Regions from separate parts of the Homo sapiens genome. Here regions 2, 3 and 4 are each linked to region 1. Evidence: fine-mapped expression QTL. A gene starts in region 1. Each other region holds a variant in brackets. All regions are shown on one strand. Distances are between the middles of the regions. Region 1 holds the start of SGPP1 (sphingosine-1-phosphate phosphatase 1). Region 2 has its middle 30 kb from the start of SGPP1. Region 3 has its middle 24 kb from the start of PPP2R5E. Region 4 overlaps LOC105370532 (a long non-coding RNA gene).

The links. PIP is the estimated chance that this variant, and not a neighbour inherited with it, causes the effect. A credible set is the group of variants that fine-mapping cannot tell apart.
Region 2: its variant is the best candidate, but not a certain one, in a credible set for the expression of SGPP1 in nasal epithelium (TOPMed, PIP 0.81).
Region 3: its variant is the best candidate, but not a certain one, in a credible set for the expression of SGPP1 in whole blood (INTERVAL, PIP 0.55).
Region 4: its variant is the best candidate, but not a certain one, in a credible set for the expression of SGPP1 in whole blood (TOPMed, PIP 0.61).

The regions. Positions count from the first base shown.
Region 1 is chr14:63,723,382-63,731,488 of GRCh38, reverse strand. SGPP1 (sphingosine-1-phosphate phosphatase 1) reads left to right here and starts at 3,424. Exons shown (of 3, transcript NM_030791.4): 1 at 3,424-4,228. The coding sequence starts at 3,545. RefSeq lists enhancers at 2,933-3,122, 4,083-4,132, 3,777-4,278 and silencers at 3,333-3,432, 3,723-3,822.
Region 2 is chr14:63,753,583-63,761,689 of GRCh38, reverse strand. It overlaps a transcript of SYNE2 not described here. Among named protein-coding and RNA genes, the nearest start is that of SGPP1, 30 kb to the right of the region's middle. The variant A/G (reference allele first, on the strand shown) is at 4,246.
Region 3 is chr14:63,563,324-63,571,430 of GRCh38, reverse strand. It overlaps the pseudogene RPL31P5. Among named protein-coding and RNA genes, the nearest start is that of PPP2R5E, 24 kb to the right of the region's middle. RefSeq lists an enhancer at 6,857-7,679. The variant CTTG/G (reference allele first, on the strand shown) is at 3,437.
Region 4 is chr14:63,659,645-63,667,751 of GRCh38, reverse strand. LOC105370532 (a long non-coding RNA gene) reads right to left here. Exons shown (of 3, transcript XR_001750790.3): 3 at 2,347-2,828. Among named protein-coding and RNA genes, the nearest start is that of WDR89, 22 kb to the right of the region's middle. RefSeq lists an enhancer at 4,306-5,306. The variant G/T (reference allele first, on the strand shown) is at 3,779.

The DNA.
Region 1 (8,107 bases):
GCCTGTAATCCCAGCACTTTGGGAGGCCAAGGCAGGCGGATCACGAGGTCAAGAGATTGAGACCATCCTGGCTAACACAGTGAAACCCTGTCTGTACTAAAAATACAAAAAATTAGCTGGGTGTGGTGGCAGGCATCTGTAGTCCCAGCTACTCAGGAGGCTGAGGCAGGAGAATCGCTTGAACCCAGGAGGCAGAGGTTGCAGTGAGCTGAGATCACACCACCATGCTCCAGCCTGGTGACAGAGCAAGGCTCCGTCTCAAAAAAGAAAAAAAAAAAAAGAAATTAGACACAAGTTTGTTCTAACCAGGAACAGACTAATATTTGCCTGCAGTCCTATGAATTCAAATGAAACATTTTAATTTTTTCCTAGTTCCAAAATTTCATTCAAATCTATCCCCCGCTTCCAATCCCCCAGAACCAAGGTCCTAGTTCAGGCTGTCATTGTTTCTCACCTGATGACTGCAATAATCTTCTAATTATTTACCTAGCCTTCACTCTCTGACCTCTGACAATCGTCTTTGATTTCTTTCCCAGTTATCTTTCTAAAACACAGTTCTGATGGTGTCACTCCCTAGCCTAAAAGCCTTCCATGGCTCCCACTGCCTACAAAATTAAATCCCTTTGGTATTCAAGGATTTACAACCTAATCCTATCCTCCCTTTGTAATCCCATTTCCAATCACCCTTGCTACTCTATGCTATATGCTATTGTTTTTTGGTTTTTTTTTTCATTTTTTAATTTTTACTGTTTGAGACAAGGTCTTACTCTGCTGCTCAGGCTGGAGTGCAGTGGTACAATCGTAGCACCCCGTAACCTCTAACTCCTGGGCTCAAGCAATCCTCCCACCTCAGCCTTAAAAGTAGCTAGGGCTACAGGCATGTGCCATCACACTCAGCTAATTTTTTTATTTTTCTTTATTTTTAGTCTGAGTCTAGCTCTATTGCCCAGGCTGGAGTGCAGAGGCACAATGTTGGCTCACTGCAACTGCCACCTCCCAGGTTCAAGCCATTCTCCTGCCTCAGCCTCCCGTGTAGCTGGGATTACAGGCACCTGCCACCATGCCTGGCTAATTTTTGTATTTTCAGTAGAGATGGGGTTTCACCATGTTGGCCAGGCTGGTCTCAAACTCCTGACCTCAAGTGATCCACCAGCCTTGGCCTCCCAAAGTGCTGGGATTACAGGCATGAGCCACTGCACCAGCCCCCCACCTAATTTTTTAGAAAATATTTTTGTAGAGTCAGGGTCTTGCCATGTTGCCTAGGCTGGTGTCAAACTACTGACCTCAAGTGATCCTCCCACCTCAGCTTCCCAAAGTGCTGGGATCAAAGGAGTGAGCCACTGCACCTGGTCTCTATGGACTATTGTTTACCAAATACATTTTTGCATATCCCTATCTTCCTTCACTTTCTCTTCCTAAAATGGGCTTCTTCACCTATTCATATTTTGCTCTGTAAAACAATCCAGCTCTACAGGATCACCTCCTAACACCTTTCTTCCTGTTCCTAGTCAAACTTGTCCTCCTTTCTGAGGCATGCTGTTTATGTCTGTTTTACACTTGCCATCTTCTCTATACTCTAGAAGTAGTCCTGTCTTTCTTTATCTCCCCTAAACTGTGAACAACTTGAGAGCATGGGTGATGATTTATTCCTCTTTCTATGGCCACAGCCTAGCAAGTGGAGTGGGAGGAGGAGAGTACCTGTCCCTGCGAAATGAAATTTTTTTTTTTTTTTTTTTTTTAAGATAGGGTCTTACTCTGTTACCCAGGCTGGAATTGCAATGGCACAATCAGGGCTCACCGCAGCCTTGACCTCCCGGGCTTAAATAATCCTCCCGCCTCAGTCCCCCAGTTATCTGGGACTACAGGTGTGGGCCACCATGCCCGGTTAATTTTCTTTTTTTTTTTTTGAGACAGAGTTTCACTCTTGTTGCCCAGGCTGGAGTGCAATGGCGCGATCTCGGCTCACCGCAACCTCTGCCTCCCTGGTTCAAGCAATTCTCCTGCCTCAGCCTCCGAGTAGCTGGGATTACAGGCATGCACCACCCCGCCCGGCTAATTTTGTATTTTTAGTGGAGACGGGGTTTCTCCATGTGGGTCAGGCCGGTCTTGAACTCCCGACCTCAGGTGATCCGCCCGCCTTGGCCTCCCAAAGTGTTGGGGTTACAGGCGTGAGCCACTGTGCCCAGCCCTGCCCGGCTAATTTTGTTCATTTTTTGTAGAGGTGGGATCTCCCTATGTTGCCCAGGCTGTTGTCAAACTCCTGGACTCAAGCCATCCTCCCTCCTCGACCTCCCAAAGTGCTGAGATTATAGGCATGAACTACCACGCCTGAAGGAAAGTATTTCTACTGTTTTAAGGGCATGGGACAATTTCAAGCCTGTTTCTTGGAAGTAGTTCACATTCTTTAATTACAGACATTCACCTGATCATGGCGGGTGTGGTGGCTCACGCCTGTAAACACAGCACTTTGAGAGGCCAAGGCAGGAGAATCACTTCAGCCCAGGAGTTGGAGACCAGCCTGGGCAATATAGCGAGACCCTGTCTCATCTCTCTCTCTCTAGGTATATATAAAAGACATTCACCTGACCTGAGGAGTTCAGAGACCTTATAAACTGCTCTAGCTAGAAGTCAAGTTGGTAACTTGTGAGACACGGAAGTTAAGCGTCTAAATTAACGTTACCAAACTCAAAAATCTATACACTGCATTCATTCTCTACATTTATTCTGTGCAAGCCCTCTAGGTATTAGAATCTAGGAAAAGGAAATTTTACACTTAAGAACACCTGTGCTCCCTTAACATATACCAAAATATTTGATAAATGACACAGTATTTTGAATTTGTAGGTGGCTGGCTTTTCTTTTGCAGACCACACCTGTTAATATCACCTGGCCCTGTCTTGGGATCTACATGTAGTCTTGTCACCACTGGTCAATTGGCACATGGTTTTCCGAACATCAGTCGCCTGGGACAGCTCTGTAATTACTTGTTAATTACTTGAGTCGAATGATTCCGAACTCATGGTAGTTGCTTCGCCTTCATTGATCATTCACCATTTGGTTCTGTGCCAGCAGGATGCCCGGCTGCTTGGTCACAGGCATTGCGCAAGCTGGCACCGGGATCGTGGCCTCTTTAAGTCAACTTCTGGCTGAGGGAATCCGGCGACACTAGCCCGCGGAGAAGAAGGGCTGAAGGTGGAGCAGGGGGACACGCCGCGTCCCACCAGACGTACGCCGCGACGCCTGCTGGTGGATATTACCCGGGACCTCAAAGCGGCCGCCCGCCGATCCTCAGCGCCAAGCCACGGCCGGATGCGCTCAGGGCGGACCCGCGCGGCCCGGCCCCTCAGGGAGCCCGGGTGGGGGCGGGGCTGGGCGGGGCGGGGCGCGGCGCGCGCGGGGCGGGGGCGCGCGGCCTGTGGCGCCGTCACCCGGCAGACTCCGGAGGGTAGAGCGCTGTGCCGGTTCCGCTGCCGCTGGCCAGGAGCGCGGGGACAGTTCGGGGCTGCGCCGGAGGCCGGCCCGCCTTCCCGGGGGTTCCGTTATCATGTCGCTGAGGCAGCGCCTGGCCCAGCTGGTTGGCCGTCTGCAGGACCCGCAGAAAGTGGCCCGTTTCCAGCGGCTGTGCGGGGTGGAAGCGCCGCCGCGCCGCTCAGCAGACCGGAGGGAGGATGAGAAAGCGGAGGCGCCTCTCGCCGGAGACCCTCGACTGCGAGGGCGGCAGCCAGGGGCGCCTGGAGGCCCCCAGCCTCCCGGGAGCGACCGCAATCAGTGCCCGGCCAAGCCGGACGGCGGCGGCGCCCCCAACGGCGTGCGGAACGGGCTGGCGGCCGAGCTGGGCCCGGCCTCGCCGCGGCGCGCGGGCGCTCTGCGCCGCAACTCGCTGACGGGCGAGGAGGGCCAGCTGGCCCGCGTGAGCAACTGGCCGCTCTACTGCCTGTTCTGCTTCGGCACGGAGCTGGGCAACGAACTCTTCTACATCCTGTTCTTCCCCTTCTGGATCTGGAACCTGGACCCTCTGGTGGGCCGGAGGCTCGTGGTCATCTGGGTGCTGGTCATGTACCTGGGCCAGTGCACCAAGGACATCATCCGCTGGCCGAGGCCCGCCTCGCCGCCCGTGGTCAAGTTGGAGGTCTTCTACAACTCTGAGTACAGCATGCCCTCCACCCATGCCATGTCCGGCACCGCCATCCCCATTTCTATGGTCCTCCTCACCTATGGCCGCTGGCAGGTAGGGTTCCTTCTCGTCCTGTTCAGCCTGGGGGAGTTCAAAGAACTCGGAGTTCTCTTTGCTCTCTGCATTTATTTTAATTCGACCGTTCCCCTCCAAAGCCTCTCTTTCCACAGGTTTTCACAATACTCGCAAACAGGCCCTTTCTGGGTTTTGAAAAATTAAGTGATTGGGGGAAACTGGATACTTAGCCGTTGAATTCTATTTTAATATTAAATTCCAATTTAATGCCTTAGAACCCAAAGGACACACTTTTCCTAGAGTAATACATTGTCATTGGGCTTTGGTTGAGTTTTTTAAACGGCTTTAATTCTTGTAATGCACAGTGGAAGTGAATTTTTTAAATAATCGCTATGTAAACTAAGACCCAGTTTCACCGTAATATATGGTGCCTTCTTCCCTAAAACTGTTTCAGAAAGAGGTAAAGTCATTAGCTTTACCGTGAGACAGTGTTTACAAAACGTTAGTGTAATTCCAAAACAAACATGCTAGTTCCAAGCAATGAAGTAATCGATTTTCATCGAAGTTCCCTTTATGGAAGTTAATGGAGCACAGGGTGAGTTCTGTTTTTAAGGGGTGTGGTTGCTACTTTGCTGATAAAGTTTGATTATCTTCTGGATCACTAATCTGTAGTATCTAACAGTTGTTGAGCTACAACTGTAATACTATAGTGTTATTGCCTCATTAACTCTAAAAATGCATGGTTTAAAAGTTATTCTTAAAGATAGGGCTCTTGATCAAACTAGTGGGTTTATAAAAATGGCAAATATGACAGCAGGGTCAGCCTGACAATCAGGAAAATTTTTTTTTTTTTTAACCCTCTCTGAAAACTGCCAAGGGAAGAGTTTTTAATGGTAATCGTTTTTATTTTGCTTACTTCTTTTGGCCTTCCAATGTTTATCTGTCTTTGAACTGTAAGATTTGTTAATCCTGCAGACCAGTCCCTTATTTTAAGAATAAAGTGCGTAATTGTGGAGATTCTAAGGAAACAAACTTCCTCTATTTTTTCCCCCTTTACTTCACAAAATCATTTTACATTGAGAAATACACATTCTGTGTAAAACTCCATTATGATAAGCTTACTTATCCCACATTAAATTTCAGTGTAGATAAAATTTCGTCCCCATGGATACTTCTGTGTAGTGCATCTCTCTTACAGTACATGGAAAATACGCATTGTGCATAGTAAGAATGGCAGAATTAGGAGGAAAGAGTACCATGGGAAGTTTTTTTCTGTTTAACCAAAGGAGCTATACGGTGATGTTCAGATTGTGAAGCAGTGCTACCTGTTTTGCGTAACAGATAAATATCTCGAAGTTTTCATTTAATCTAAATATTTCAGAATTTAAGATTTTCAATGAGCTGTGTTTGGCCTGGTGATGTTAGCTGATGATGTTTCTCTTATTTTCGTGAGACTTTTAGGATTCTGTAACAATAGAGCCTTTTATGATGCCTTCTCAGTGAGTAGCTATTTTGTATGCTATTAGTATTAGCAGTCAAAGTAAGAGAAAATAGCTATTTTTGCTCTTTATTTGTTCTGGACACATACTAACTGGAAGTCTGAAAACAGTACTGCTGAATCGTTTATGGGATATTGATATTCTAACATTTCAGGGTTATTTGAATTATCAGAATAAGCTTAGATTTAGTTTTTAAACAACCTAGTATATTTAACTCAAAGTTTAAGAAATTTGCGTATCATAGAATTTTAGACTTTGAAGTAGACCGGATGTTAGAAATCACTTAGTTTCAAACTGTCATTTTACAGATGTGCAAACTGACCAGTTACATTAAAATTAATCTTGTAATGCTTTAAATTTCTTATTTTACATTTTTTCACTCTAAATTTGCATGATTTTTCGGTTAGTTGTTCTGAAAGAAAGCCTCCTGACGGAGTCTCGCTCTGTTGCCCAGGCTGGAGTGCAGTGGTGCAGTCTCGGCTCACTGCAACCTCTGCCTCCCAGGTTCAAGCAATTCTCTGCCTCAGCCTCCCGAGTAGCTGGGATTACAGGCGCCTACCACCACACCAGCTAATTTTTTAAGGATTTTTAGTAGAGATGTGGTTTCACTGTTTTGGCCAAGCTGGTCTTGAACTCCTGACCTCAGGGGATCCACCCATCTCGGCCTCCCAAAGTGCTGGGATTACAGGCGTGAGCCACTGCGCCTGGCCTAAGCCTCCTTTATATGAAAGTTCTGTGTTTATAAATGTTTGACTAATAATCCAGTACAAAAAACAAGATGGCTTTTTAACCTTTTTCCTTTTTTTTTTCCCTAAGAGTCGGGGTCTCACTATATTGCCTAGGCTGGTCTCGAACTCCTGGGCTCAAGTTATCCTCCCTCCTTGGCCTCCCAAGTGCCAGCTTTTCCTTTTTTTTTTTTAAGACGGAGTCTCGCTCTGTTGCCCAGGCTGGAGTGCTGTGGCGCAATCTCGGCTCTCTGCAATCTCCTGATCTCAATCAGGAGATTGAGACCATCCTGGCTAACACAGTGAAACCCCGTCTCTACTAAAAAATACAAAAAATTAGCCGCCCCCCGCTCATCGGCCTCCCCACCACTGGCCTCCCAGAGTGCTGGCATTACAGGCGTGAGCCACCGCGCCTGGCCTCCTTTTCCTTTTCCTTTTTTTTTTTTTTTTTTTTTTTTTAAAGATCCTTGTTATCTATTGAAAACAAAAGTACCTTCCTTTGCTTCAGCTGTTTGGGTCCTCTACTCTGTGAATTAGTATTGTACTGCATTGGAGGCTTATATAGAAAGCCTTTCCCCTAGAAACTGGGGGAAGAATTAAATAATGAAAGCCTGGTGTTTTTCTAATAAGTTTTGGTTGGCAGTCTTGCCTATCTGCTGTGCCTCAGCTGCTTATTTGGGACAGGTATGGTTACTTATATATGCCTGGCGTGCTGAAACATCTCTTGAAACTGAGTTCTATACCATTCCTTTGTCTTGGCTTTACTACTTCACTACTACCTACTACTTAATGTTTCTGCCCTCATTGAAATTTGCTCAAGATTCACCACCCAGAGCATTTTAAATTAATCCTTTCTGTTTCATTATTCCTCACTTACACTTAAAATGACAGTATATGGCCAGGTGTAGTGGTTCATCCCTGTACACCTAGCACTTTGGGAGGCTGAGGCGGAAGGATCCCTTGAGCCCAGGAGTTGGAGACCAGCCTGGGCAATATAGCGAGACCCTGTCTCTGCAAAAAAAAATCAAAAATCAGCTGGGCATGGTGGCGCATGCCTGTAGTTCTAGCTACTAGGGAGGCTGAGGTGGGAGCATCACTTGAGCCTGGGAGGTTGAGGCTGCAGTGAGGTGTGATTGCACCACTGCACTTCAGCCTAGATGACAGGGCAAGACCCTATCTCAAAAAAAAAAGACAGCGTACAAACTCGGGGTTGTTTAAAAATGCAGATTTCTACATTTCCCAGGGTAAGTTTCCCAGAGATTCTGACCCATTAGATGAGTGAGGAGTTAGTTGTATTTCTTCAAGATTGCTGTCTCAGCTTCTTTGAAATTCCAGTCTTTGAATTTTTTTTTTTTTTGAGACGAAATCTCTCTTTGTCACCCAGGCTGGAGTGTGGTGGTGTGATCTTGTCTCACTGCAAACTCTGCCTCCCCGGTTCAAGCGATTCTCCTGCCTCAGCCTCCTCAGTAGCTGGGACTACAGGCGCACACCACCACCCCCGGCTAATGTTTGTATTTTTAGTAGAGACGGGGTTTCACCATGTTGGCCAGGATGGTCTCGATCTCTTGACCTCGTGATCCACTCCCCTCAGCCTCCCAAAGTGCTGGGATTACAGACGTGAGTCACTGCACCCTGCCTGAATTTTTTTAAGGTACGTTATAAGACAAAGGAGAGATTGGAATAGTATAGCTCCA
Region 2 (8,107 bases), 30 kb before region 1:
AAGGACATTTCTGCCTTTCTCTGAAGCAGGTCATAAGTCCCTCATTAGAGAAGTATTCTCCCTATACCTGAAGAAAAGGAACATCCTTATCTATGAAGACACAGGAACTCAGAGAAGAATCTGAACAAACAGGCCTTGCAAAATGCCCTCCAGCTTCCTGCCATTAGATCATACCTCCTTTTTCCGGCCATACTTCTCCATAACTATCCACTTCTTCATCAGATCTAGCATAAAAACATTTCTGTTTAACTGTTGCTTCGGTTCTTCATTTCCTTATGAAGGCTCCGCATCACGTAAAACTTACGTTAAATAAATGTGTATGCTTTTCTCTTGTTAATCTATTTTTTGTTACGGGGTCTCAGTCATGAACCTTAGGTAGGAAGGAAAATAGTTCTTTCACCCTGCAGTACCGTGGATCAAAAAGAAAAAAAACACACACACATAGTCTCAGTCATGTTTTATTTGTTTTTGTTTGTTTGTTTGTTTTGAGACGGAGTTTTGCTCTTGTCCCCCAGGCTGGAGTGCAATGGCACGATCTTGGCTCACTGCAACCTCCGCCTCCCAGGTTCAAGCGATTCTCCTGCCTCAGCCTCCCAAGTAGCTGGGACTACAGGCGTCCACCACCACACCCAGCTAATTTTTGTATTTTTAGTAGAGACAGGGTTGCACCATGTTGGCCAGGCTGGTCTCTAGTTCCTGACCTCACATGATCTACCCATCTCAGCCTCCCAAAGTGCTGGGATTACAGGCGTGAGCCATGGTGCCCGGCCTCAGTCACATTTTATTTTAAAGGAACAATTATATCATAATGCTTTTCAAAAATAGAGGTACAAGGCCAGGCGTGGTGGCTCACGCCTGTAAACCCAGCACTTTAGGAGGCTGAGGAGGGTGGATCACGAGGTCAGGAGATCAAGACTATCCTGGCCAACATGGTGAAACCCCGTCTCTACTAAAAATACAAAAATTAGCTGGGCGTGGTGGTGCACGCCTATAGTCCCAGCTACTCGGGAGGCTGAGGCAGGAGAATCACTTGAATCCGGGAGACGGAGGTTGCGGTGAGCTGAGATCATGCTGCTGCACTCCAGCCTGGCAGAAAAGCGAGACTCTGTCACAAAATAAATAAATAAATAAATAAAAATAGAGGTACAGGCCTGGCGCAGTGGCTCATGCCTGTAATCCCAGCACTTTAGGAGGCCAAGGCAGGTGGATCACTTGAGGTGAGGAGTTCGAGACCAGCCTGGGCAACAAGGCGAAACCCTGTCTCTACAAAAACTACCAAAAAATTAGCCGGACATGGTGGCACACTCCTGTGGTCCCAGCTACTCAGAAAGCTAAGGTGGGAGGATCACCTGAGGTTTCAATGAGCTGGTATCATGCCACTACACTCCAGCCTGGGCAACAGAGCAAGACTCTGTCTCAAAAAAAAAAAAATACAATATGCTATGAGGAAGCATAGGAGGGAAACTACAGGGTAGCCTCAAAAGTTTCACATCAGAAGTAATATTTGTGCTGAGTCTTAAAAAACAAGTAGAAGTGTGTCAATCCTATCTCTAACTTTCAATCTCTAAAAGAGAAGCAAAATGCAAAAACAAATCTCTATTGCAGATGGAGATTCAGAACTTTGTAAAAAAAAAAAATTTCTTTCAGTTTATTACCTCCTTGATCTTTTCTGCTTAGGATATTGACCTAACACTGAGTGGCTTAGTAAATATAAATTTAATACTTGATAAGCCTTACTCCTTAATATTTTCTTGTTTCAGTGAACAAGGTTCCTTTTCTTCAGGAACATTAGATTTTCTTCCCCCTGTGTGTGGCTCAATATTAATTTCCCATCCCCTTATCTGTGTGCCTGCCAAAAATGGAGACTACAGAGATTGGAAATACATTCTGAGCTCCTGCGTGAATTTCCTGAATTATTTCCTTATTCCTGAGGAAGGATCTCCAAGAAGGTGAAGAGAAGCAGCCAAAAATTATTTTAATTCAAACCAGCAGTGGTTGTCTTTGTACAGTGACGGCTTCCTAGATCACATGGTAAAGTAAGTCTTAGACATACTCTGTCCTTGCTCTGCCCACATCCTCTGCTTCATGGACTGTGCCTGACAGTTTCATTTTTGCTTTCAACCATTCCTATAAAATTCTAGAAAACACGATTTCGAGCAGGGATGCCAAATTTTGAACCTGACTAGTAGATAAATCCAATCCTCAAAAAAATGAATGCAAAGTATAGCACGAAGGCATGCAAAAATTTGGTTCTTACTTTTTCTGCTATTTACTCTCAAATCTTTTTTTTAAATAATGGAAATACAACATGTAAACATTTTTTTTTTTTTTTAGACAGAGTCTTACTCTGTCACCCAGGCTGGAGTGCAGTGGCGCGATCTCGGCTCACTGCAACCTCTGCCTCCTGGGTTCAAGCGATTATCCTGCCTCAGCCTCCCGAGTAGCTGGGACTACTGGTGTGTGCCACCACACTCGGCTAATTTTTGTATTTTTAGTAAGATGGAGTTTCACCTAGTTGGCCAGGCTGGTCTCGAACTCCTGACCAGCCTTGGCCTCCCAAAGTGGTGGGATTACAGGCGTGAGCCACCGTGCCCAGCCTGCATGTAAATAAATTTAAAATATTCTTTTTTTTTTTTTGAGACTGAGTCTCGCTTTGTTGCCCAGGCTGGAGTGCAGTGGCACAGTCTCGGCTCACTGCAACCTCCTTGTCCTGGATTCAAGTGATTCTCCTGCCTCAGCCTCCCCAGTAGCTGGGATTACAGGTGCCCATCACCAGGCCTGGCCAATTTTTTGTATTTTTAGTAGAGAAGGGGTTTCACCATGTTGGCCAGGCTAGTCTTGACCTCCTGACCTCGTGATTTGCCCACTGCAGCCTCCCAAAGTGCTGGGATTACAGGCGTGAGCCACTATGCCCAGCCTAAAATATTCTTAAAAAAAAAAAAAAAAAAAATCTGTGCTCGCTTCTGCAGCACATATGCTAAAATTAAAAAAAAAAAAAATCTAGACCTACAGATTTTTTGGAGGCAAGATCTCACTCTGCCACCCAGGCTAGAGTGCAGTGATGCAATCATAGCTCACTGCAACCTCAAACTCCTGGGCTCAAGGGATCTTCCCACCTCAGCCTCTTGAGTAGCTGGGAATAAAGGCACACATCACCATGCCAAGGTCACGCCACTGCACTCCAGCCTGGGTGACAGAGGGAGACTCTGTCTCAAAAGAAAAAAAAAGCCTCTTTATATTTTTATTTCATCCTTAAAAATGTCTATATATTGCATAATGTATGTTATATATTAATACAGTAAATACATATATAATGTATAAATAAATAACATGCAAAAAAAAGTTTGAATACCACTCATTTAAAATTGGTACCCTTTGATTTCATATGTTTTGTTCATATTTTGAGAAGGCTGTAGGATAAATTTTCAAAGGGAACAAACTGAAATGCATAGCTAGATATAAGTTGTTTAATTATTGCATTTGGACTGTTGACCTTTGCAATACTCATTGTATACTAAAAATCAAGTTAAAATAAAGTCTTGTTTAATTTTTATAGATTGTAAAAATAATTAAGAGAATTTGAAAATGACATAAATATAAAATAAAGGCAAAATATCATGGGACTGCCAGGCATGGTGGCTCACACTTGTAATCCCAGCATTTTGCGAGGGCGAGGCAGGCGGATCACTTGAGCTTGGGAGTTCGAGACCAGCCTGGGCAACATGGTGAAACCCCATCTCTACAAAAAATACAAAAATTGGCTGGACGTGGTGGAATGTGCTTGTGGTCCCAGCTACTTAGGGGGCTGAGGTGGGAGGATATCTTGAGCCTGGGAGTTCGAGGCTGCAGTGAGCTGTAATTGAAACACTGTACTGCAGCCTGGGTGACAGAGCCAGATTCTGTCTAAAAAAAAAAAAAAAAAAAAAAAGCGAGACAACTGTTATCATTTTATGTATCTTCTTCTAGTCTTTTTTTTTTTTTGCCAAAGGATCCTCTTTCCAGAAGGTCTGAAGGCACAATGAATAAAACCATGGAGTTACTACAACTATATCATTTCCACCAGTGCCCTTAAGCTGTTGTCTAGAATTTCTATTTATAGAAAAAAAGTTAGCCTTTCTGTGTAAGCAACAGAAAGAGGGATACATCAAAAGCCAGGTAGGGGTGCAGAGTAAGGAAAGGCTGGAATTATAAGCTAAACTAAACCAACAAAGTCAGTAAAAGAAAATAAAAGAAAACATCCAAAAC[A/G]AAGAGGTGCTATCAATAGCAGTCACTGTAAAAACATGTCAAACAAAATAATCAGCTTATGCTATAAAGAATAAAAGAGACTGAAAGCATTCTTTGAAACATGAAACAACTATTTTCACTACTCTAATCCTTCTTCAATCCATGTATTCCTTTCTTTGGTCATTTGCCCTAAATTACTGAAAACAAATATTTGACAAGAGACAGCTAACTGAAGAGAATTAATCCTTTTTAGCTTTAGGTTAAACTAAGAGGAGGCTAGTCCATTTAACAGCATTTAGTGGACAAATCTTTGAATAGGTTTAGGGTTCAATTAATATCTGAGCCTAATTATTATTATTATTATTATTATTATTATTATTTTTAAGGTGGAGTCTCACTCTGTTGCCCAGGCTGGAATGCAGTGGTGCAATCTCAGCTCGCTGCAACCTCCTCCTCCCGGATTCAAGCAATTCCCTTGCCTCAGCCTCCCGAGTAGCTGGGACTACAGGCGTGTGCCACCATGCCTGACTAATTTTTGTATTTTTAGTAGAGATGGGGTTTCACCATGTTGGTCAGGCTGGTCTCAAACTCCTGACATCAAGTGATCCACTCGCCTCGGCCTCCCAAAGTGCTGGGATTATGGGCATGAGCCACCGTACCCAGCCTCCTCATTATTTTTCATATGCATGAGGATACAATCTTACTCCAATAAAAGTTAAGTTCTCTGAACAAGCATGACTAAAAAAGTGTTTCTTTTAATCCACTAGCAGTAAAACTCACTGTTCAGACACATGACTAAAATTTTTATCCTTTATAAAATTTCCAGCATTTCCAATGTTTGTATAGTTCAACAATATCCAAAACTTTCCAATTCATAATGTTCAATAAATGTGAAATACTATTAGAAAATCTTTAAAATTATGGCTTACTTTCACTCAAATGTAACTGTATATATAACAAAACGGATAAAAGTAAAAGGAGGTCTTCACTTGCCAAGGTTCTTTGTTAACTGCATCAGGAATGTTTTTAATAACTCTTTTAATAATAGACTCAGGATGGTAAGAATATTGCAATAGTAGTTGGTACCTTTAACTGTGTATCTATTTAAATTTACTGGCCAAAAATGTGTAAATGTAACATAATACAGACTTTAAGCCATACTTCTCAAATTAAAAGCATTTATCTAACTCAATGCAGAATATTATCACACAGGTACCACACCCATGCACACCAACTAAAAACAGTATTCATTCTTAAGTGTGGCAAGGAAATTTTTTAATTTTTATGTTTACTTTCATAATATCCCTTTTTTCACCTTTTTTCTTTTTCACAAAAATGTCATGAGAGATACCGTGCAACAATAATTAGGGAATCTAACCTGAGGTCCCTGTGGGTTGTAAGTTTCTAAAACTTCAAAATTATGGTCATCTATGTATTTCATTGGTTGTCTCTTTTTTTGTTGTTGTTGTTTTTTCTGAGACAGAGTGTCACTCTGTCACCCAGGCTAGAGTGCAGTGGCGTGATCTTGGCTCACTGCAACCTCCACCTCCCAAGTTCAAGTGATTCTCTTGCCTCAGCCTCCCGAGTAGCTAGCATTACAGGTGCCCACCACCATGCCTGGCTAATTGTTTTTTGTATTTTTAGTAGAGGCGGGGTTTCACCATGTTGAACAGGCCGATCTCGAACTCCTGACCTCAAGTGAGATCCACGTGCCTCGGCCTCCCAAAGTGCTAGGATTACAGGCGTGAGTCACCGTGCCTAGTCCATAGGTTGTCTCTTTATGTATCATGTACTTCATAACTGCCAATTTAAAATTCCGACTCCAAGTAAAATTATCTAGCTGTCATCCATGCATTTTCCTTCATTCCATATCTTTAATAGGTATGATATCTTGTAAATTTTAAAACTGTTCCAATTGTTTTATTGATTTAGTAGAATGTGGCTATCAATCTCAATTAATTAAACTCACTTTTTTTATTGTCACCATATTGAGTTCATGAATCATTTAAAGATTATAATGTTACCTTTATATATCTATGTTCACACATATTGCATAATAATAATTTACCATTCCAAAATTTTCTAAATTAAGTAATTTTATTTATTTTTATTTTATTTTTGAGATGGGGATCTTGCTATGTGGTCCAGGCTGGAGTGCAGTGGCTATTCACAGGCACAATTATTGTGCACTACAGTCTTGAACTCCTAGACTCAGGAGATCCTCTTACCTCAACCTCCTGAGTAGCTTGGACTACAGGTTCATGCCACCATGCCCACAAATATATATATATATTTTTTTGTTGTTGTTTTTTTTAAGATAGAGTCTCACTCTGTCACCCATGCTGGAGTACAATGGCAGGATCTTAGCTTACTGTAACCTCCGCCTCCCAGGTTCAAGCGATTCTCCTGCCTCAGCCTCCCGAGTAGCTGGAATTACAGGCGCCTGTCACCACGCCCAGCTAATTTTTTGTATTTTTAGTAGAGATGGGGTTTCACCATGTTGGCCAGGCTGGTCTCCAACTGCTGACCTCAGGCAATCCATCTGCCTCGGCCTCCCAAAGTGCTGGGATTACAGGCGTGAGCCACAGTGCCCGGCCTATTTTTATGGACTGAAAATAAATTTAAAATGGTCAACCATGGCTGGGTGTGGTGGCTCATGCCTATAATTCCAGCACTTTGGAAGGCCAAGATGGGAGGATTGCTTGAACCCAGGAGTTCAAGACAAGCCTGGGCAACATAGTGAGACACTGTCTCTACTTTTTAAAAAAATTTAAAAATTAAAGGAAAAACAAAAAAGGAAAAAAAAATTAAAAATTTAAAAAAATAAAATAAATGGTCAACCAAAATATAACTCAATCGCAATGTTAATTTCTTAAATTTTGATCCTTTTAGAAAGAAAATTTATCCCCTCTGCTTGTGATAGTTCTGAAATTGAAATTTAAACAAAGAGTAATGGATTAATTAATTAAATATTACCCTATGGAAAGGTACCTCTAGAAATTCAGCTATATCAGCTCTGGAGTTCCCAAAATAATAGAATAGTATATCAAGTTATACTTTTGTTTGTTTGTTTGTTTGAAACGGAGTCGCCCAGGCTGGAGTGCATGGGTGTGATCTCAGCTCACTGCAACCTCCTCCACTCAGGTTTAAGCGATTCTTCTGCCTCAGCCTCCCAAGTAGCTGGAATTAGAGGTGCGTGCCACCACACCTAGCTAATTTTTTTGTATTTTTATTAGAGATGGGGTTTTGCCATGTGGGCCAGGCTGGTCTCAAAATCCTGGCCGCAAGTGACCCACCCGCCTCGGCCTCTGGAAGTGCTGGGATTACAGGTATGTGCCACTGCCCCAGGCCAAGTTACAGTATTTTCCCCCAAACATTAATTCAACCTATCTCCATTAATAAACTTAAAAATTGTCCAAGAGTGTTATTTCATCATGGAAGAAAAATTTATCCATTTTTATGTACAAACACTATTCCTCTGTTTATGGAGATTTTTTAATTATGTCGAAGATGAACCAGTTAAAGAGTTCATGTAGGACAGATACATATATATTCAAAGTTAAGGTAAAGGTTTTCTTTTCTTTTTTTTTTTTTTTGAGTCAGAGTTTTGCTCTTGTTGTCCAGGCTGGACTGCAATGGCACTATCTTGGCTCACCACAACCTCTGCCTTCCGGGTTCAAGCGATTCTCCTGCCTCAGCCTCCCAACTAGCTGGGATTACAGGCATGTGCCACCACGCCTGGCTAATTTTGTATTTTTAGTAGAGATGGGGTTTCTCCATGTTGGTCAGGCTGGTCGAACTCCCGACCTCAGGTGATCCACCCACCTCAGCTTCCCAAAGTGCTGGGATTACAAGCGTGAGCCACCGCACCCGACCATGGTTT
Region 3 (8,107 bases), 160 kb after region 1:
GGCCTCAGCTTCCATAACTGCATGAGCCAATTCTCCTAATAAATCCCCTCTCATCTATCTGTCTGTCTGTCTACCTATCTATTTTCCCATCCATCCATCCTATTAGTTCTGTTTCTCTAGGCAACCTAGACCAATACTTCAAGCAAACTGTCAGGCAGAGGGAACAGCTTTTACAAAGCAAGCAGTTTCCACTGCTTGGAGCAGAGACCTAAAATAACAGTGAGGCTGGGCACAGTGGCTCACACCTGTAATCCCAGGACTCGGGAGGCCAAGTCAAGCGGATTACTCGAGGTCAGGAGTTTGAGACCAGCCTGGCCAACATAGTGAAACCCTGTCTCTTCTAACAATACAAAAATTAGCCAGGCATGATAGTGCACACCTACTGAAGTCCCAGCTACCTGGGAGGCTGAGGCAGGAGAATCACTTGAACCCAGGAGGCGGAAGTTGGGCTGCAGTGAGGTGAGATCGTGCCACTGAACTCCAGCCTGGGCAACAAAGCCAGACTCTGTCTTAAAAAAATTATAAATAAAATAAAATAACAGTGGTTTAAACAACCAAGCAATTTATTTCTGTCTCTACAAAGACCTCAGGATCCTAGACTTCTTTATCCAACTATTCCAAAAGCAAGGTGTGGCCTTCATCCTTTATGGTCCAGGACATTGGCTAGTGCTCCAGCCATCACATCCACACTCCAGATAGCACAGAAGAAATCCAAAGGAACTTTACAACTATCATATTATGCAGTTTCTTAGTCCACATCCATCCCATTAGCCCAACACAGTCTCCTAACCACAATTAGCAGCAAAATTCTCTGGGAAATATAGTATTTATTCTGGGTATCACGTCTCCACCGAAAAATTTGGCATTCTATACCTGTGAAAGGGAAGAACAGATAATGGGAGACAATTAGCTATTTTTGTCACATATTCTTATCTCCATTTTTTTTTTTTTTTGAGATGGAGTCTCACTCTGTTGCCCAGGCTGGAGTGCAGTGGCACGATCTTGGCTCACTGCAACCTTAGCCTCCCATGTTCAAGCGATTCTCCTGCCTCAGCTTCCTGAGTAGCTGGGACTACAGGCGCGTGCTACCATGCCCGGGTAATTTTTGTATTTTTAGTAGAGACAGGGTTTCACCATGTTGTCCAGGCCGGTCTCGAACTACGACCTCAAGTGATCTGCCCACCTCAGCCTCCCAATGTGTTGGGATTATAGGCATGAGCCACCGTGCCTGGCCTTTTTTTTTTTTTTTTTTTTTGGAGACTGAGTATACCTCTATTGCCCAGGCTGGAGTGCAGTGGCGAAATCTTGGCTCACTGCAATCTTCGCCTCCCAGGTTCAAGAGATTCTCCTGCCTCAGCCTCCCAGGTAGCTGGGATTACAGGCACCTGCCACCATGCCTGGGTAATTTTTGTATTTTTAGTAGAGATGGGGTTTCACCATGTTGACCAGGCTGGTCTTGAACTCCTTACCTTAAATGATCCGCTTGCCTCAGCCTCCCAAAGTGTTGGGATTACAGGCATGAGCCACCACACCCGGCCATCTTCATTTTTTATATAAAATCAATGCAAAGAGTGGTTGCATTATTTTCAGGTGCATTCAGGAAATTTCAAGTAGTTTTTCTTAGCTTTTGCATAAAGTGTAAAGTAGGAAGAATGAAAGGTAGTAGAGCTAGAAAGATAATCAAGTGATCAGAATACAAAGGTATGGACCCAGTGTGGTGGCCCACACCTGTAATCCCAACACTTTGGGAGGCCAAAGTGGGTGGATCACCTGAGGTCAGGAGTTTAAGACCAGCCTGGCCAACATGGTGAAACCCTGTCTCTAAAAAAAAAAAAAAAAAAAATACAAAAATTAGCTGGGCATGGTGGCAGTTGCCTGTAATCTCAGCTACTTGGGAGGCTGAGGCAGGAGAATTGCTTGAACCCAGAGGCAGAGGTTGCAGTGAGCTGAGATCACACCATTGCACTCCAGCCTGGGCTACCAGAATGGAACTCGGTCTCAAAAATACAAACAAACAAAACAAAACAAAAATTAAGATATGGCTTGTGTGCTATTCAAATTGCTCAAGGACTCAATAATTTGATCAATTCTGTAAAATGAGTTTTTGGATTTTCTGAAATGGAAAGGAGACCCGGGATAGCAGTGATGATGCCATGTTACTGCCTACCTGTGGGAAAGAACTGTCTCTCTGTTCCTCCTACTTCCTACCCCTTAAATGCAAAGAAATGGCAGCAAGAAAGAAGCTGAGGAAAGGACTACTAATTTAATCAATATTCATTGAAATAAATTTGTACTAAGCACTTGCTTAGTACAAATGCTTGTACAAGCATTTGTGTATGTGGCCCAAATCCAATCCATGTGATCATAACAGTCTATCAAAGCAGCAATGCCACTGTTTCAGTAAAGAAAGTGTTTTTACGGCCGGGTGCAGTGGCTCATGCCTGTAATCCCAGCACTTTGGGAGGCTGAGGCGGGTGGATCACCTGAGGTCAGGAGTTTGAGACCAGCCTGGTCAACATGGTGAAACCCTGTCTCTACTAAAAATACAAAAAATTAGCCGGGTGTGGTGGCAGGCGCCTGTGAGCCCAGCTACTCAGGAGGCTGAAGCAGGAGAATCTCTTAAACCCGGGAGGTGGAGGTTGCAGTGAGCTGAGATTGCACCACTGTACTCCAGCCTGGGCAACACAGTGAGACTCCGTCTCAAACAAACAAAAAAAATGAAGCATTTTTAGGCCAGGCAAAGTGGCTCACACCTGTAATCCCAGCACTTTGGGAAGCTGAGGTGGGCAGATTGCTTGACCTCAGGAGTTCAAGACCAGCCTGGGCAACATGGTAAAACCCTGTCTTTACTAAAAATACAAAAAAAAAAAAAAAAAATTAGCCAGGTGTGGTGGCATGCGCCTTTAGTCCCAGCTAGTTGGGGGCTGAGGTGGGAGGATCACTTGAACCTGGGAGGCAGGGTTTCAGTGAACCGAGATTGTGCCACTGCTGCACTCCAGCCTGAGCCACAGAGTGAGACACTGTCAAAAAAGAAAAAAAAAAAAAAAGCATAGGTTGAGAAATAGAAAGCATTTCTGTTTGTTTGTTTTATAAGTTCATTTGATGTATTCGACAATCAGTGGTTAGTTCTCATCCACATTGACTGTAGATTTTTGAAAACGGTAACACGTACATGGGTAACCAAAGTATAGAGCTTGTTTGTTGAATTTTCATCCTCGTTACGTTTTCTGGACAACCACACAGGGATACGGTATGGGACAATCCTTATTCCTTTGGCCCAAACAGCTTTGTTGAGCCTAGTATCAATGTGCACATCTGGAGTGCCCATCTCCTTCATGGCACATTTTTGGATCTCTTCGAGTGCCCGAGGGGCACACTTCTTGAAGCCCACACCATGGATGCGCTTGTGAATGCTGATGGCAGAAAGGCTCTTCTT[CTTG/G]CCATCCTTCTTTGCAAGAGCGATCCTGCCGGGCCCAAGTTGGAAAGCAAGAGAACTACAGATTGTGGGAGAAAGAAAGCAGCGGTTCCCTGAAGGTATTTCTTGAAACACTGGAGGAGAATGGAGCTAGCTCAAATGGGAATAGATGAGATTTATAGTCACTCCTCCATCCCTGCAACATATCTACTTTAAATTCTTGGTTATGTTAATTTGTAGGTCTCAAGGCATTACATCAAGACATCATAAATTACATTGGGAGCTAAGGTGAGGAGTTTAGCAAGATCTCATAAGCTATCTGGTTCTCTTACCTATTAAATGAGAGGTCAAGACAAACTGAGTTATCAGGGACTTTTGTTTTTTTGAGACAGAGTTTCACTCTTATTGTCCAGGCTGGAGTGCTGGAGTGCAATGGCGCAATCTCGCCTCACCACAGCCTCCGCCTCCTGGGTTCAAGCAATTCTCCTGCCTCAGGCTCCCGAGTAGCTGGGATTACAGGTATGCGCCACCACACCCGGCTAATTTTGTATTTTTAGTAGAGACGGGATTTCTCCATGTTGGTCAGGCTGGTCTCGAACTCCCAACCTCAGGTAATCCACCCGCCTCAGCCTCCCAAAGTGCTGGGATTACAGGCATGAGCCACCATGCCGGGTCTATCCAGGTCTTTTCTGCTCAAACATTCCAGAAAGGAAAAGGCAGAGATAACTAATGATGTCAATGATAATATAGCAGTCTCTTCCCAAACACACTCCCAAGCTTTTTTTATCGTTGTTGTTGAGACAGAGTCATAATCACCCAGGCTGGGTGTAGTGGCACCATCTCGGCTCACCAAAATCTCCACCTCTCCACCTCCCAGGTTCAAGACATTCTCATGTCTCAGCCTCTCAAGTAGCTGGAATTACAGGCGCGTGCTACCATGCCTGGCTAATTTTTGTATTTTTAGTAGAGACGGGTTTCACCATGTTGGCCAGGCTGGTCTCCAACTCCTCAAGTGATCTGCCCACCTTGGCCTCCAAAGAGCTGGGATTACAGGCATGAGCCACCGCACCTGGCCTCAAGCTTTTGTAACGAACGGGTATAGCAAACTAGAGGTTACTGTTGAGCACCTCTAGAGAGTTTTTCATTTCAGTTATACTTTCAACTCCAAAATTTCTATTTGGTTATATGTAGAGAAATAAGTATTTCTATTTCTTCATGTTTTCATTGAGATTTGCTGAGATATCTTTCTCATGCTTTTCTTTAACTCTTCTTTTTTTTTTTTTCTTTTTTTTTGTGAGACAGGCTCCTGTCCTGTCACCCAGGCTGAAATGCAGTGGTATGAACATGGCTCACTGCAGCCTTGTACTTCTGAGCTCAAGTGATCCTCCCACCTCAGCCTTCTGAGTAGCTGGGAGTACAGGCATGCATCACCACACCTAGGTAATTTATTATTTATTGATTGATTGATTGAGACGGAGTCTCGCTCTGTTGCCCAGGCTGAAGTGCAATGGCGTGATCTCGGCTCACTGCAACCTCCGCCTCCCGGGTTCAAGCAATTCTCCTGCCTCAGCTTCCTGAGTAGCTGGAACTACAGGCGCCCACCACCACGCTGGCTAATGTTTGTATTTTTAATAGAGACTGGGTTTCACCATATTGGCCAGGCTGATCTCGAACTCCTGACCTCAGGTGATCTGCCCACCTCGGCCTCCCAAAGTACTGGGATTACAGGCATGAGCCACCATGCTTGCCGTAAAGATATTTTAAATATCTTACTTAAAGTTTAGTAAGTACAAAGTCTAGGCTTCCTCAGGGAGTTTCTATTGACTGTTTTCTCCCAGTGCCTGGGACACACTTTCTTGTTCTTTGCATGTTGTGTAATTTTTTGTTGGAAACTGGGGATTCAAAATAATATAACATGGCAATAATTGAAATTGGATTCCCTTCTTTCCCCAGGAGTTTTACTGCTGCTGTTTCTTTGTTTGTTTAGTGACTTCCTGAACCCATTTTGTAAAGTTTGTATTTTTTTTTTTTTTAAAGACAAGGTCTTTCTTGGTCTTCCAGGCTGAAGCACGGTGATGCAATCAATCCTAGCTCATTGCAGCCTTCAATTCCTGGGTTCAAACAATCCTCCTGCCTCAGCCTCCTGAGTGGTTAGGACTATAGGCATGCACCACCACATCCAGCTAGTTTTTTTCTTTTATTTTCTTCTTTAAATTATTATTTATTTTTATTTCTATAGGTTTTTGGGGAACAGATGGTGTTTGGTTATGAGAGAGGAGAAAGAAAAAAACCCAGTCAGGCAGGCAGTTAGGGTGGGTCCTCGGTTGAATCCTTTCAAACAAAAGAACAGCCTGCAGGCACAGGTAAGGGAACTTGCACAAGGGGGCTTGCCTAATACATGCCCACAGTCTCACAGATAAGAAAGGTTACCCAGGTGACTTGCCCAGACATACTCGCAATGGAAAATTCCATCCTCTGACACTTGCTTAGTAAGGGGAACAAAGCAATATGGAGTAACTCAAGCTAAGGGCTCACATGCGCACTAGGAGGATGGGGTAAGCTACCAGAAATTCACGCCTTATACAAATGAGATGCCCAGCCCTCACTGGTTTCTTATAAAAGCCTTTGCATTCAGCTGTAAAAAATGGCAACCCTCTTCAGGTCCCCTCTCCGCAGAAGACAGCTTTCTTCTTTCCCTTATTAAACTTTTGTTCTAACCTCATCCTTGGTGTCCGTGCTCCTTAACTTTCTTGGTTGTGAGACAAAGGACTCTGGGTACTACCTCAGGCAAGGAGAGACTGCTACATTGTGGTGCATTGGCAAGACTATAACATGGATAAGTTCTTTAGTGGTGATTTCTGAGATTTTGGTGGACTCATCGCCCGAGCAGTGTACACTATACCCAGTGTGCAGTCTTTTATCCCTCATTCCCCTCTCACCCTTACCCCTGAGTCCCCAAAGTCCATTATATCATTCTTATGCCTTTTTGTCTGTTTCCTTTTTTTTTTTTTTGGAGATGGAGTCTGGCTTCGTTGCTCAGGCTGGAGTACAATGGCGTGATCTTGGCAAACTGCAACCCTCCGCCTCCCAGGTTCAAGAGATTCTCCTGCTTCAGCCTCCCAAGTAGCTGGGATTACAGGCACCCGCCACCACGCCCAGCCAATTTTTGTGTTTTTAGTGGAGACAGGGTTTCACCGTGTTGGCCAGGCTGATCTCAAACTCCTGACCTAAGGTGATCCACCTGCCTCGGTCTCCCAAAGTGCTAGGATTACAGGCGTGAGCCACTGCTCCCAGCTGAGTCTCTTTCCTTTTTCTTTTTAAATTGTTGTAGAGATAGGTCCCACTGTGTTTTCCAGCCTGGTCTCAAATGCCTGGCCTCCCAAAGACCTGAGACTACAGGCATGAACCACTGCACCCAGCCAAGTCAGTATTCCTTTTCAAGGGTGTGGCACTGAAATCTGTTCAGTTAGCTTAGTAGTCAGCTGATTACTGGACACAGAGTTCCTCAAATTCCAGGAACCAATAAGTCTCGCAGCCTTTCCTGAGAGACTGTGTGGGGGGGCCTGCCTTCAATGCTCAGGCAGGATTTTCACAACTCTGCCTTAGCCTTTACTTTCTGCTTGTGAAGGGCCTCAGGGTCTGACAGAAATGAGAATATAGGGACTTTCAGGCATTTTCTGGGCAAGTGCACAACTTTGCACATGCTCAAGGACTTGTAGATTCCAAGGAATGTGTTAAAGAGTTTTCCAAAGCCCCCTGTGGATATCTTATACCTCAGCTTTTGGAGTCTCGCTCTTTTGCCCAGGCTGGAGTGCAGTGGTGCACTCTCGGCTCACTGCAACCTCCACCTCCTGGGTTCAAGTGATTCTCCTGCCTCAGCCTCCCGAGTAGCTGGGATTACAGGCATGTGCCACCATGCCTGGCTAATTTTTGTATTTTTAGTAGAGATGGAGTTTCACCATGTTGGCCAAGCTTGCTTTGAACTCCTGACCTCAGGTGATCCACCTGCCTCAGCCTCCCAAAGTGCTGAGATTACAGGCGTGAGCCACCGCACCCAGCCCCCAGATTCTCTTTTCGGGTTTTTTGTTCAGCTTCTGGTTTGCTCTAGTTGTTATCATTACCATAGCAACTGTAATGTTAAATAATTGTTACTGATTGTTTTTGACCAATGCCCTGAGGGAAAAGACTTTTTGCACTGAGTTCTGAGTCAGATCAGATAAAGACAAGTCCTGTGAGTGGAGGTTTCCAGGGAACTGCCAGACAGGTCAAATAATGAGAATTCTCTGTGAATGGTGCTTTGGGGAGCTCTAAACCCATTTGGTTTTCTACAGTGGCTACTAGGCTGTTCGTTCGCCATGATACAGAGTAGTTGGTTTTCAAGATTACTGTGGACCTAAAAAGATGGGGATGAGAATAGGACAAGATAAATTGTCACAAAGTTCACTGTTCTTACCAAGATTCAGCCATTTTTCTCGAATAAATGCTCCTGGACTTGCTGCAAAACGTTTGTTATTGTACAGTGTTCCAAAGAAATTGATTTTGACAATTTTTGTCAGTGTTTTCAGTGTTCTAATGAAAGAGTATATTTTCAAAAGTCTTCACTCTGTCATTCCCTCTGATGTCACTCCAGAACCTAAGGAAGATATACCTGGTGGTTTCTATATGCTTTGGATGGCTTTAGGCTCATGGCAG
Region 4 (8,107 bases), 64 kb after region 1:
CAGAGAGAGACTGTCCAAAAAAAAAAAAAAAAATTTACCATCTTAACTATTTTACATATGCTGTTTTGTGGCATTAAGTGCATTCACATTGTTGTGCAACTATTTGCAACTCTGGAATCTAGATGAATCCTAATACTAACATTTTGTCAAGTTTCAAAAAATGCTGCTGTTGGCCAGGCACGGTGGCTCACGTCTGTAATCCTAGCACTTTGGGAGGCTGAGGCGGGTGGATCATTTGAGGTCAGGAGTTCGAAACCAGCCTGGTCAACATGGTGAAACACTGTCTCTACTAAAAATACAAAAAAAGTAGCCAGGCATGGTGGCGGGCGCCTGTAATCCCAGCTACATGGAAGACCGAGGCAGGAGAATTGCTTGAACCCAAGAGGCGGAGGTTGCAGTGAGCCGAGATTGCGCCATTGCACTCCAGCCTGGGCCACAGGCAAGATTCCATCTCAGAAACAAAACAAAACAAACTGCTGTTGCTGTGTTGCTATTCTGATTGTCATTATAATCCATGTACAGATTAATTTACGTAGATTTAACTTTTACAATATTGTCTATGAAGCACAGCATGTGTATATACGTATATAATATATATATTATATATACAATATATATAATATACTATATATAATATACAATATATATAATATACTATAATATACTATATATACTATATATAATATATATAATATACTATATATAATATATATTGTGTGTATATATCTATTTTTTAGATAGAGTTTTGCTTTTGTTGTCCAGGCTGGAGTACAATGGCATGATCTCGGCTCACTACAACCTCCACCTCCTGGGTTCAAGCGATTCTCCTGCCTCAGCCTCCCCGTGTCACTGGAATTACAGGCATGCACCACCATGCCCAGCTAATTTTGTATTTTTAGTAGAGACGGGGTTTCTCCATGTTGGTCAGGCTGGTCTCAAACTCTCGACCTCAGGTGATCCTCCTGCCTCAGCCTTCCAAAGTGCTGGGATTACAGGCATATATTTTCCTCTCATTCATTCACTCAAATATTTATTGAGTACTTATTACACCAGGAACTCTGCTAAGCATTAGAGATATAAATGTAACTAAAGTAATGTATCTGTAATCATGGATCTTAAGAAATCCAGAAGAGGAGATAGAGATCAAGCAAATAATTGCACAAATAAATGTAAAGTTGTGAAGTGCTAAGGAGGAGAGAGATGTGGTAATACAGTGAGCTTATAATAAGTGATTTTATCTAATTGGCGGGGTGGGGTGTGTCTGGGCAGTCTTCCCTGAAGTAAGAACTGAGCTGACTCTGGGAAAATACACTGAAGTCATCTTAAATAGCCTCCATTTGGCTCCATACAGGCTCTGCACATTTCTTTGGTTTGTCCCTGGGTATATAATCTTTCTTCTTGTAATAATATAAGAGCTCTTGTATTCATTTTATTTTTAACCTTTTTTTTATTTATGGGAAAGCTATTGATTTTTGTATATTATATATGTAACCAGCTACCTTTGGGATTTTCTTGTTTTTGAGGGAACCCATTCTCTTTCTCGTACATTTTTGCTTCAGCTAGTAAGTTAGGAATATCTGTCAAAACTTCTGCCCTCTTGGAAGTTTGAAGGGGGAAGCTGCTGTCTTCTCCCCACCTCTGTGAGTACAAGAGTGATTTACCTGTTTTTATTGATTTTTTATTTTTTTTATTTTTTTTTTGCTGTAGGATATAGATCCTGATGACTTACGTGTTTGGTAAAATGGTGAGAATATGACATCCACTAAGTCATCTTTCTGTTTTGAGTGGAATTAATATGTGAAAGGCCAAGGCTCAATGTGGCATTTCTCTTTTGACTCTCTATTATAGTCAGCAAGTAAGGGAGACTCCAACTACTTTATTTATTAATAACTTTTAAATATTTTGCTACAATTATAAATAGTAATCATTAAAGTTATTTACTTAAGAAACAATGTCTCACTCTGTCACCCAGGCTGGAATGCAGTGGCATTATCATAGCTCACTGCAACCTTGAACTCCAATGGCCTCAAGTGACCCTCCTGCCTCAACCTCCCAAGCACTGAGATTTCAGGTGTGAGCCACTGTGCCGGCCACCGTTAGATTTTTTTTTTTTAATCTTGGTTTAATATCATGGAAATAAAGATGCTTGAAGGTCTGGTTTTATTTATTTTGTATTTTTATTTTTTTACATAAGTTCTACAGATCTGCTGAGGAGGTATGGGTTTACATTCAATTTATCTTAATTATTGGTTTTAATATCTATCATAGATGAGAAACATAATTGAAAAAGATGCCAAGATTCAAAGAAGTAGTAAAAAATCAGGATACTCATTTTTTAGTCCTATACCCTATTTATAGAAAAATTTTTATTGAAATTCCACTAGAAATACCCATCTTCCTTAATATCAGAAGATACTGCCTTTTTAAAAATTTTCTTGAGACAAGGTCTCACTCTGTTGCCCAGGCCGGGTGACAGAGCAAGACTCCATTTCGAAAAAAAAAAAAAAAGAAAGTGGATAGAATTTTTTTTTCAAATAGTCCTCTTTGTAGTTCTCTTTTAACTGACATCTTGTTAGGTTTTATTAAACTGTCATTTTTATCACATATTTTGGCTAAGAAGAAATTATACCAGAAGTAGGAAAAGAACTAGTTCTGCCATTTTGTTGTTGTTGCTTTTATCTTCATTATTGATCTTTTCAATCCTTGTCCTCTTTGCATGATTGTTTTAAAATCATACGCTTGTTTCAGGCTATGTTCTCAAGAAGCAGAACTTGAGATGAAGATTCCTGTGCCAGCGATTCTTTTGAGAGAGTGATGTCAGCTGAAACCTGTAAGGGAGTGAGAGAAACAGAATAGGACAGAGGAAGAAGCTAGGCAAAGACATGGGTTCAGTTGAAATCTATCTTCATTTTGATCCCATGAGCAGCTCTGGAGTGTGGATGGCACCATGGACTTGTCTCTTCTTGAGGCAAGGAAGCAAGCTTTAGTATTCCTGTATTATTCAGTCGTGGGCTATGGGCCGCCTGGAGTTAGTGCAGGAGGGTGGTGGCAGAGTGTGATGTTCCTGATTAGGTAGCATCCATCATTTATGGTCAGTTCTTCACAGAAAGATACAGGTATGAACTGGTAGCAGCCAAGAGTCACAGCATGTAGGGAATGGGGACCATGACCAGTAAGTAGAATCTGGGCAGGGAACCAACACCCATTTTTTGAAGTTACTTAAGGCTAAATATTATAATTGGGAAATCTTTTACTTAACCATTGTACAATGTGTCAGCTGAAAATGAACAAACAAGTGAGAGTGACACTTAGGGAATTCATGCTCTTGTCCCTGATACTCCCTACCTGATGTGACCATCAGGCCTTCAGACTGGTGAAGATGCAAATGTCAACCTACACACTAATCTTAGTGTAGCATAAACACACCTGAGAGCAATAAGTGAAGCCTACCCTGAGAATGACCCTGTATGGCAGATGCATCTGAATGTGTGTTCTAAGCTAGGGAATCTGGGAGTGGCCAACCTGGACATTTTTTCCTTATCAATGATGAACATCTGAACCCCTGTCCTGCCCTGTTCATGGCAGTGGCAGCCCATCTGGAGCAGCCTCTCTGACAATGCTGGCTGCAGCCGGGAGGCGCGGCTGGGGCTGTGTATTCCATGGAGCAGGCAGGATCCCCACCCTCCTGGATGCACCTGCAGCCGCCCAAGCTGCAGCTGCAGGGTCGGAAATGCCTGCTCCCGCTGCCTAGCCTCTCCTTACTCCTGGAGCCCAATCA[G/T]ATCTTGGTGCAAAGTTGAGGCCAAGCCAAGGTGCTGTTGCAATCCAGCCAGGTGTGCTCATTCTTGGGGCAGTGCTGACATGCCAGCCCCCTGCCGCCTTGACCCTCTCCGGGCTTTGGGCACAAACAAGCATGGGAGGGAGGCTGAGTGGGGTCTGAGGGCAGCTCAGTGCTGGGCTGCAGGCACCACTCTGCAAGAGCAGCCTGGGCACCATGAACAGTGGCAGGAGGCAGGCAGGCTCCTGGGTGGAAAGGGGAAGGTCCCTGGTGAAGCCCCGCCTTCAAGCTGGGGAAGGCGTGAAGCCTGGGGACCAGGCTGCCAGCCCTGCAGACCAGAGTGGGAATTTGTGCTTTTTTCTGGGCCCGCCCATGGCTGCCTGTGGACCAATCAGCAAGCACTTCCTTGCTGATAAAAACCTGACTCAGCCAGACTCAGGGAGATGACAGGATGACCAGCTATGGAGAGGAGCTACCCACCCCAGGGTCTCCTCTCTGCTGAGAGCCGAACACTTGATGGGACACCCTCCCTTCAAAGAGGAGCTACCCACTGTGGGTCTCTGAGCTGTTCTGTTGCTCAGTAAAGCTCTTCTTCGCCTTGCTCACCCTCCACTTGTCCACGTACCTCATTCTTTCTGGACACAGGACGAGAACTCAGGACCTGCCGCATGGCGGGTCTAAAAGAGCTGTAACACAAACAGGGCTGAAACACACCCCTTGCTTGCCACATTGCAGGAGACAAGGAGAGAAGAGCTGTGGCCCTTTGATGAGCTCAGACCTAGAAGCTCCCCAAGCCAAGGCTGTGACATACTCTTTGACACTGCATTTCCTGGCATCTCCAAGCTTCTGGGCAGCACCACGTTCCCCAGTGCCAGCTGTGGAAGCTACTTGTGGTACACCTGGTTCAGCTGCAGCTTCGCAGGGAGCCAGTGCCCGTGGTGGTGCCTGGAGCTGCCTGCCCTACTGCAGCCGATGTGCCTGGCTGTTTGCAGTGGCTGGACCCCGTGCTCACTTGCTCACACACCTGTCACCACTCCACTCCACTCATCTCAGAAGGTGTGGGATCTTGGCAGGTAGCATGAGCTGAGCACAGCCTGACAGGCTGATTCGGCCCAATGGGCCTGAGCAAAACTCAGGCAAAGGCGCCACTGGCCACAGAGGTTTCCGGCTGGAAAAGCAACACCCCCAAGGATCCCATAACACAGTGGACCAGGGGCCATACAGGGGATTTAGGCCCTGAGTTTTGGGTTGGATGCAGCTTGCCAAGTGGAGGTTGTTAGAGGGAGGGTGTTAGGTGAAAATGCTATATTAATTGCATACTATTTGCAAATGATTGTGGTTTTTCTGCGCAGCCAGTCGTCACTGGGCCATGTGGCTGTGATGTCCAGTGCACCAGCCCCGGACTATAGGCAGGGGGTCATGTTGTCCAACCTGCCACCATTGGATTGTAGGTAAGACAGATATCTTGTCCATCCCACTGCCACTGGACCATTTCTCTAATTAAGGCAATTCCCCTTTCCAGCCTGCTGCCACTGGATTCTCTTCCATGTATGTAATCCCCTAATAAAACCCCAGGTCTTATTTGCTGGTTCTGGGTCTCTCCTTTGGCCTCTTGAACCTGGTGCCTTCCTTACAGAGGTTAATAGGGGTTTGGCACAACAATTAGTAAAATTTAGTTTCCTCTTTTTAGATTACAAAAAAACAATTTAGGCCAGGCGCGGTGGTTCACACCTGTAATCCCAGCATTTTGGGAGATCGAGGCAGGTAGATCACTTGAGCTCAGGAGTTTGAGACTAGCCTGGGCAACACGGTGAAACTCCATCTCTACAAAAAATACAAAAATTAGCCGGGTGTGATGGCATGCGCCTGTAATCTCAGCTACTCGTGAGGCTGAGGCAGGAGAATCTCTTGAGCCGAGATCGCGCCATTGCACTCCAGCCTGGGCAAAAAAACAAACAAAAAAACTGACAAGTGTCATTCCCATTCTATTAGCTCTCATTAGTGTTGGGAATGCAGGGAGTTTTTTTGACAAATAAATCCTACTGGAGGATTATATAACTAATTATAGTTTAAAAAAGGGGTTCTCAAAATGTGAACCAAAGACTCCTGGGGGTCCCTAATACTCTTTCAAGGGGTCTGAAAATTCCTCCCTTTTCCTACTCCATGTCTGTATGAGGACAGGTTTGCTTCAAATACTTAAAAAAAAAATCACAATAGTTTGAAGGCAGAGTCAGATATGAGAATCCAGGTTTCTTCTATATGCCAGACAGTAAGGAGATCTGCAAATACATTAAACAGAATAACTCTTTGTTGTACCTATTTTTCTTTGTTTTAGAAAATATATTTTTCTTAAAATGTTTATGATAACATGTAATGGGTTTAATATCGCTACTCAAAAATGGGTAAATACATCTTTTTAGACTTTGGGTTTTTTTTTTTTTTTGAGTCAGAGTCTTGGTCTGTTGCTCAGGCTGGAGTGCAGTGGCTCAATCTCGGCTCACTGCAACCTCCACCTCATGGGTTCAAGCGATTCTCCTGCCTCAGCCTCCCAAGTAGCTGGGACCATAGGCGCGTGCCACCATGCCCGGCTAATTTTTGTATTTTTAGTAGAAACAGGGTTTCACCATGTTGGCCAGGATAGTCTCGATCTCTTGACCTCATGATCTGCCTGCCTTGGCCTCCCAAAGTGCTGGGATTACAGGCATGAGCCACCGCGCCCGGCCAGATTTTTGTTTTAATTTCTAATATTGAAAATATTGATAGATAGACAAAACCCACATAAACAAAAGCTCTTTGAGGCCTTCAATAATTTTTAAGAGTATTGAGGGGTCCTGAGACCAAAAAGTTTGAGAGCCACTTGTCTAGAATACTCTCTTCTTCATTCCTATTCTCCCAGCATTCTTGCATTCCATGATAGGGAGCTGTGTACCTGTATTACTCTCTCCTTGAAAAGAGGAACTGTATATTCGGCACAGTACTTAGCAGTGTTTTGCATGTACTAAAGGCTCAGTAAATATTTGGTGAATTAAAAACTGAATATTGCTGTTTTCTTCCAAATCTGCTCTTCTTTTCAAATTTATCTTTGTTTAACCCTGCTGCTCTTTATAGGCAGCCATTGACTCTTTTTTCCCTTTCGTTGCTAAAACTTCGAGGGATAGTCTTCATTTAGCTCCATGCCAAGTGTGGGGGCTAATCCAGTGTGGAGAGTTTGGGAAGGAGGCACACCAGGAATTCATTTTGCATCCTGCTAACTTTCACACTAATGTTCAAGTATTGATTTTATCATGTTATTTTTGCTCAAGAGCCTACAGAGTCCCTGTTTACTTCAGATATAAACACCTGTGCCTGTGTTCATGCCCATAACTTTATCCCATGTACCAACCTTATCTCCCATTAACTAGCAACACCTTCTCTGCAGCCAGGCTGACTGCTTCACTAGTCCCCATGCATGTGCTCTTTCCCAGAGATAAATTTTTTGCACTGGCCACTCCTGCCATCTGGCTGTTATCCATCCTTTAACCCCCGTTCAGGTCCCAAAGTCTCCATTAAATATTCTTGAATTACCTTTTTTTTTTTTTTTTTTTTTTTGAGACAGAGTCTCACTGTATTGCCTAGGCTGGAGTGCAGTGGCACAATCTCGGCTCACTGCAATCTCCACCTCCCGGGTTCAAGCAATTCTCCTGCCTCAGCCTCCCAACTAGCTGGGATTATAGGCACCCACCACCACGGCCAGCTAATTTTTGTATTCTTAGTAGAGACGGGGTTTCACCATGTTGGCCAGGTTGGTCTCGAACTCCTGACCTCAGGTGATCCACCCATCTCAGTCTCCCAGAGTGCTGGGATTACAGGCGTAAGCCACTGTGCCTGGCCTGGCCTTCTTAATTACTGTCTTATAACGCATCCTGACTGAAATAGAATCACAGCATAATGGACAAACTGATTGGTGAGCAAGGAAGAAAAAGCCTTTGTTTCTTGCGGGCGGGAGAGGGCAGGACTGGTAAGAGAAAATGTCATGTTGTCCTTCTGTACAGCCACCCACACACAAAACCTCAACCAAACAAACCAGCATTATCAAGGGCATGGAGCCAGAAATGACAGACAAACTGGGGCAAAGTGTTGCTTTTTGCCTTTCCATAGAAGAGGCCATTGTCTTTGCTTTTATTTCAGCATCGAATCCCCTGAAGTGTATTTACTTTTTATGCATCTGTTTCTGCCATTAGATAATTCATTGAGGAACTAAGGATGTCTTATTCATGTTTCTATACCCACTAGCATACCGTAGGTGCTCAATATATTTCCTTAAAGAAATGTGTGACTGGCATGGGCGAAGCT